2 linked regions of the Homo sapiens genome follow. The protein of the gene in region 2 interacts with the protein of the main gene of each other region in a biochemical or structural test. Each region holds a gene or a part of one and is shown on either strand. Other genes may lie near its edges.

Region 1 (3,500 bases), on a different chromosome or scaffold from region 2:
CTGATGCAGAACTGCTGCTTCTTCTTCATCCACATCAGTTGCACACACTGATGGATAAAAATGTACTGCTCCTGGAACAAAAGACAAAAACAGGTTTCAGAGCAGACATGTGCAAAGATATAATATTTTATACTATGACAATTTTAATGATCAAGATCTGGTGTTAAAGGAAACCATTTTCATTATTTACAGAGACACAGTTTTATAACTAGAAAATCCAAGAGAATCAACTGTACAAGTATTTTGATTAATAACAGAGCTTAGAACATCATGGCTTTTTTAAAAAAACAGTGGAATTTTTTTCCCCTAACTTTATTGCAGTATAATAAAAATTGTATATATTTAAGGTGTACAATGTGATGACTTGATATACATATATGTTATGAAATGATTACCACAATCAAGCTAGTTAACACATTCATCACCCCAGATTATATATATGTTTATATATATGTGTGTGTATATATACATATATATGTATGTATATATATTTGTGTGTGTGTGTGTGTGGTGAGAACACTTAAGATCTACTTTCCTAGCAAATTTCAAGTATACAATACGGTATTATGAACTATGTTCACCATGCTGTACATTAAATCATTATTAATGCTAAAGGAAATGAATATTCAATCAAATCATGGGGCTATTTTGAAAAAAAAAGGATATCCCATTATCATACACCAAAGCAAATTCCAGGTAATTTAATAAATTGTCTTTAAAAATACAGAGGAAAATATTGGTTAATTTCTCTCTGATTCCTTTAGGAAAGGAATTTCTAAAATTAAGAGCAGTAGAATACATTACAAATAAAAATCTCAATCTACTGTATATTTTAAAAAGTTAAAAAGAATAAAACACAGGGTAAACCACAAACTGGAAAAGAAAAATATTTTCTAGAATTATGACAGAATATTGATGCCTTTATTTTTGTGATAAAGTCATTCAAATCAGTAACATATACAAATAGACAAATAAGTAAAGGACATCAACCACTAGGCCAAATATTCCCTGGAAGTTAGAAACTATGTCTTTTTATTCCTAATGCTTAGCACTTAGCTGTGTTTATTAAATGATTTTTGAAGTAAACTGAGGAAATATTAAAATATGCCAACAATAGTCAAGTAATACAAAGTACATTGAAATAATTATTTTCTATCTATGTAGTGGACAAAGCTAGAAGGAAAAGAATAATATTTAATGATGACAAGTTTGTTGAGGCAGTCCATTTTACCTATTGTTTGTGGAGGTAGAATTAATAAAGTGCTAATAAATGGTGTGGACACAGATAATAGTAAAAAGTGGAAAATAATCCAATTTAATGTTCTATAAAAAGGAGATTGGTTTAAGTATGCAATAGTGTATCTTTAATGAAACATTAGTCTGTCCTTAAAATGAGATTTATAGAGTTGTAGGTAATTTTTGATACTATACAGGCTACATAGTAAAATCCTAAATGAGAAACTACAATGTAAATAGAATGTAAAGTAACACACATATATACATACATATAATATGAGCACAATCATGTAAAAGTTATACTTGAATGAAAGCCAAAATGAAATCACCAAAATATATCTTTCTGCCAAGAAGTAAGGGTAATTTCACAGTGTTCCTCCTTTTTCTTTGTTTCCCAGAGTTTCTCTATAAGTAATAGCACTAGAAATAACATTTAAATGAGATCCGGTCAAAATATTCATAGGATTTTAAGAAGCTTCCTGTGTAACAACTTCATACAAAAAACAAAATTAATATTTCGAACATCACTGGATTGATGCCTCAGCCTAACCTGTATTTTTCAACACGGTTTGGAGAAAATATATTCCCTTTTGTGGTGATGGTATCCTATCAGTGGCTGAGCTACCCCTTGTGGTCATCACACATGGACACCTAATCCATTGCTTCTGGTGTTATGTCAACACAGGGAATAGATAAGACCAGAGATTGCCTGGACATTCAATCTGCATCTGCTTAGTGGCTACATTTTGTATCAAAACAAAAAACAACCAAACAACAAGACCACAAGAAAAGTAAATAAAGACTATTTATGGAGGGACTTGTCCTTGAAAGTCCCGAAATTCAAACTGCAGATCAAGAGGATGGGCTGCTCAAAGCAAAGCCCCAACTGACCTCCAGGGAAGGATATTAGAGGAAAACCAAACAAAATATTCGATAAAAATAGAAGAGAGGAGAACATCATTCATAAGTAGCACTTCACAGTTTCAAATCACTTATCTAGGTTATATTATTTCCCATCATGTCTGCTTTACAAAAATTAGTGAAAGTTATCATTCATATTTTACAGAAGAGAAATGGGAGCCTTGAGAGGTGACATGACTTGTGCAGCAGTAAAGTGGAGATTCAGGCTCCCCTCAGGGTCTGGCATTCTTTCTAAATACGCCTCTACTTGCGTGAAGAAGTCTATGAAGTGTGTCTGGTCAGGTGAGGAAGAGGAAGAGGGCAGGTCACAGTGCAGTCCAGGCAGCATGTTGCACCTGGAGACATGGCTCATCCTATCAGCTACTTCTGCAATTTTTTGGGTGAGGTGGAATGGTGGGGTCAAGGCAATGTAGAGAAGGCTGGAAAATTAGATACCAGTGATGGGAGGAAATATGGTCTATGTGGGTTGATTATATACATAAAAACAGAGCTCAAGTGGAGAACCATTTCATTCTCTTGAAAATCATTAGCGTCAAAGGAGTACTCTAGGATGATACATGTGAAAAGAATAACCTTTTTTTACTTTGTTCTTTCCTTGTTAACTTTTGTGACCTGGCAGCAGAATTTGAATGTGAATGGGCTTAAGGAGAATCTTAGGCAGATCAATCTGTATTCAAAATACGGGATGAACCATGGTAAGCAGAGGAACAAGGAAAAAATAAAGGTAAATGAAGAAGATGTTCTAGACATAAGTTAAAAAAAAAGACACAGATAAATAACTGGAACTGGAAAACATCCACCAGGAAGTCCTGCGGGAATCAAGGGTCAAGCTAGAAAAGTTGGAAAAAGTAAGTAACCCGGGGAACCTCTGCCCCCTTTGCTGACTTTGAACTCCCCATGAGAGTTCAGGGAAGGGATACTGCACTTTATTTTTTATTTAATTATTTCATAATTAATTTTAATTAATTATTTTATGGGGTTTTTTTTTTGAGACGGAGTCTTGCTCTGTCACCAGACTGGGGTGCAGTGGCACGATCTTGGCTCACTGCAAGCTCTGCCTCCCAGGTTCCAGCGATTCTCCTGCCTCAGCCTCCCGAGTAGCTGGGACTACAGGCGTGTGCCACCACGCCCAGCTAATTTTTGTATTTTTAGTAGAGAAGGGGTTTCACTATGTTGGCCAGGATGGGGATACTGTACTTTAAAAAGGCTGTGTCCGCGGAGATATCAACATAAAATGCTGGCATAAACAAATAAAACAACCAAAATTTAGGGTAAAACATTTAGGGAGAAAACAAAACGTTTTCTTGGCTTTGCAGAAAGCGACATGGTGGCTGCTTGATAAC
Region 2 (3,334 bases):
GTACAGGAAGGATTTCGGGTCCTGACACAGCGGCGTCTGCCCAGTGGTGAGGAAGTAGGTGCCGCCGCTGTAGAGCCGGACCCACTTGGACCTGCTGCTGGGGCGCTGGGCCAGGACGCTGAGCCCCGCGCTTTAAGGGAGGCACAAGAAGCCACCCCAACCCCGCCCCGAGCCTGCCACGGGCCAGCGGCAGGAGCTCGCAGTGATTCCCCGCCATGATCCCAGCAAGCCCCACCACACCTCCGCTTCACCGGAAGAGTCCGGCTTTTAATATCGCCCTTTGCGTTCTGTCCCGCCCACTGGTCAGCCCTTGTAGAACACCCGCCGGTCACATGGCAGGCGGAAGTTCCATCCGGGAAAAGCAGCCGGCTGGTCCCACTTCCGGAGGGAGTGAAACCGAGCTTGGGGCGCCAACGCTAGCGGGCAATGGCAGACACCCGCCCCCAACCGCGCCCCCACTCCGTGGCGGGGTCAAAGGAAGAGCCACGCCAGCAAACCTCTACACTCTACATGCTTTTTATTACAAGACTACTGACCATACGAGGAAAATTCATCATCTGGTAACTACACCTAAAGCACAAGTATTTGGAAAAAAAAAAAGGATAAACAGATTCATTAAATTATATGATTAAATCACTGACCCAATAGAAAATTTATATAATAAAGCCAGAAAAAAAGTTGTAAAATATAGTTTACAATAATTATTCACATTCAAGGCTGTACATCAATACATACAACAACGTGGCCCCGAACATGAATTCAATTCAAATAATTCATATATTAGAATTTAAATAACACAGACTGAACTAGAGGCCAACAATAGCCAGCAAATAACCTTATATAAGAATAAAAATACAAAAGTGTATATCCTAGTATCATTGCATTTGTTTTCATAAGTTCTTTTAATTTTTGCTTTGTCTGTACATCACAGTTACAGCTACAGACCAGGTAGAGAATATTACGCATGTTCTGCTTGCCACCCACCTGAAAGACGTACTAGTCATTTATCCTATTTTATGTTGTGAAGGAACAGCTACAGCAGCTCTAAATACTGTAACAATTTAATTTTGCCAACATCCAACTTACTTACAGTCGTAATAGAGGCTTTTACCAGCACAATGACCCCTATTCGTAGTCATTCTGCCAGGTGGTTAGGCTATGTGGGTTACACAGCTTAAAAAAGGTCTGCCTTTTGTAAAAAGTTCTCTGTACATAGTTTGGTGTTTCTTCATATGGAAGAAATGAGTTACGGGGAAAATTCAGGTACACACGTAGGCTCGTTCAGTTGCTCACCACAGCCATCTCAACAGATGAAAGTGCTCTTTGTTGGAAACAGCTTCCTCCTCACACCAGTTCTCCACAGGCAGCCTCATCTACAACCCTGCAATTTTGGGCCAGAAGTGGTGGCCCCTCAGAGGCTCTGAAGTGCCTCCAGCCCCGATTCAGGCACTTGCCACGTGTGCTGCGTAAGAAGGGACCCCCACCCAGTGAGTCAACATAGGCTCATGTCAAGTTTGAAAATAACTGGGGAAAAGTGTATGACAACATCTTCCAGAACAAAGTACCTTCACCGTATTCTCACAGCAGCTGCGATCTCTGAAGTCTCAGCAGTGACCACCCCGGGTCTGTCAACCAGCCAGGCAAGGGGGGGCCCTCAGGCTTCAGAGGGCAAGAAACCAAATTCCGTGCAATTTGGCCATAATCTCTGGTAGAGTGAAGCAGCACTGAACACGGTGCCTAGAAAAACCTCCTGCACGTTCCCCTGCACAATCAATGGACCCCAACTACAGTGGAGAAATGAAGAATCCAACCAAATTTGGGTGGTCTGGACTTGCTGCCAGCCAGGCAATCTGCAACACTGTGGGCAGGGAGTTGGGGGGGGCGGCCTGAAATCTACACCAGCTGGGACAACCACGCCCTACAATGAAAAAGCCAGCCTGGCTGCTGGGCTCTTGTGAACCACTAAGACCTGAAGGTGGGGCCCCACGGGTGGAAGGGGGAGACAAATGCACTCTTGTAAAACCCAATCAGCTACGTGGTTTTTTTCAAAGAGGCTTTGCTCTGCTACTGATTCCAAATGTCCTAATATACCTTCTGAGTCTATAAACTTAATTACAAATCACTCACTAAGCATGTGGCAAGGTCAGTTCAACACTTGTTATCTCTGCTGACTGTGCAGATGCAAATTCAGTACCATTGTGGACACGAAGTACAAGATTCTGCCAAGCGCTTGAAAGCCACGGCAGCAGGGAGGGCAGAGAGCTGACATGCAGGCAGAGCCAGGTTCTTGCAACCAAAACAAGGAAATTGGCTCTTGGAAAAAATCGGCCACAGATGGATTGCAGTAGTGACATCCTCTTAGCATTTAAATAAAGAGCGGTCTTATTCAGACATTCTTTGGAACACATGGCTTATCAGAAACCGATTTGTTCAGAATCTGTAAGACACAACTAAGGTGGTTCTGCTACTGGAAGTGAGCGTCTACACATCAGGTCGAGAGAGAGACAGAAATATCTTCAAAATGAACAAACTCTTTCACCTCAAAATACCACTTCCAGGCATCTAAGGGGGAAAAAAGTAAGAAATCAGAAGATTTTAAAGATATTCATCACAGCATTATTTAAATAGTGGAAAAATCAGAAACCGTCTTAAGTATTTTACAGTAGGGAAATGGTCAGATAAATTATAGTAAATGGACAATGACTAAATAGTACAATTGTTAAAAACATGTTTCTGAGAAACTCATGACATGGGAAAATGCTTAAAATATCAAGGGAGAAGACGATGCAAACGGTGTGTGTCGGATGTTCCTATTTTAGTTTAAAAAGTGAACAAATGGCAGGGCAGGATATACGGCAAAATGCTCACAGTGGTCTTCTCTGGCCGGTGAGCCTACAGCTGATCTTGTCAGAGACAAACGTTAGTTTTACTGAGTCACCCAGAGCCCTGTGCTGGTGCCTGAGGGTTTGTTCCATGGGACAGTCTCCACAATTCCTCTGGGGAAGGGCCACAAATCCCACAGTGTGTCCCAAGAGGGCTGGAGTAGGCGGAGTCCCCAGCAGCTGTGGCATGACCAGCCATCTCTCTCAAAACAATTGTTAACAAGCCTTCTGCAAGTTAAGGTTCCACATGGTAGCCGTGGTACAGAGGCATTTCTCTAGGGTGGAGAGGCTTGTGCTCTACACCAGGACTGCCCACCGCCCTGGCTGGGGCCACACAAAGAGGGGAGAAAGGAATCCCTCAGAAGCCAGCCCCCAACTGTGTCCCAGAGAAAGGCGGGGCACCTGGGACACCTAGGCCGGCAGCGACCACAGCCTCCCTCCGCTTTGTGCCG

Evidence for each region. Proteins that work in one complex are often made in the same cells at the same time.
Region 1: of the proteins of PDPK1 (region 2) and PTPRO, one has a biochemical effect on the other in vitro, tested with the Homo sapiens proteins (one large-scale study listed by IntAct).

Annotation. Positions count from the first base shown.
Region 1 is NC_000012.12:15,591,508-15,595,007, reverse strand, and holds part of PTPRO (receptor-type tyrosine-protein phosphatase O isoform a precursor), read right to left. Parts: intron 72-3,500; coding exon 1-71.
Region 2 is NC_000016.10:2,600,355-2,603,688, reverse strand, and holds the end of PDPK1 (3-phosphoinositide-dependent protein kinase 1), read right to left. Parts: 3' UTR 501-3,334; downstream 1-500. UniProt on the Homo sapiens protein: Serine/threonine kinase which acts as a master kinase, phosphorylating and activating a subgroup of the AGC family of protein kinases.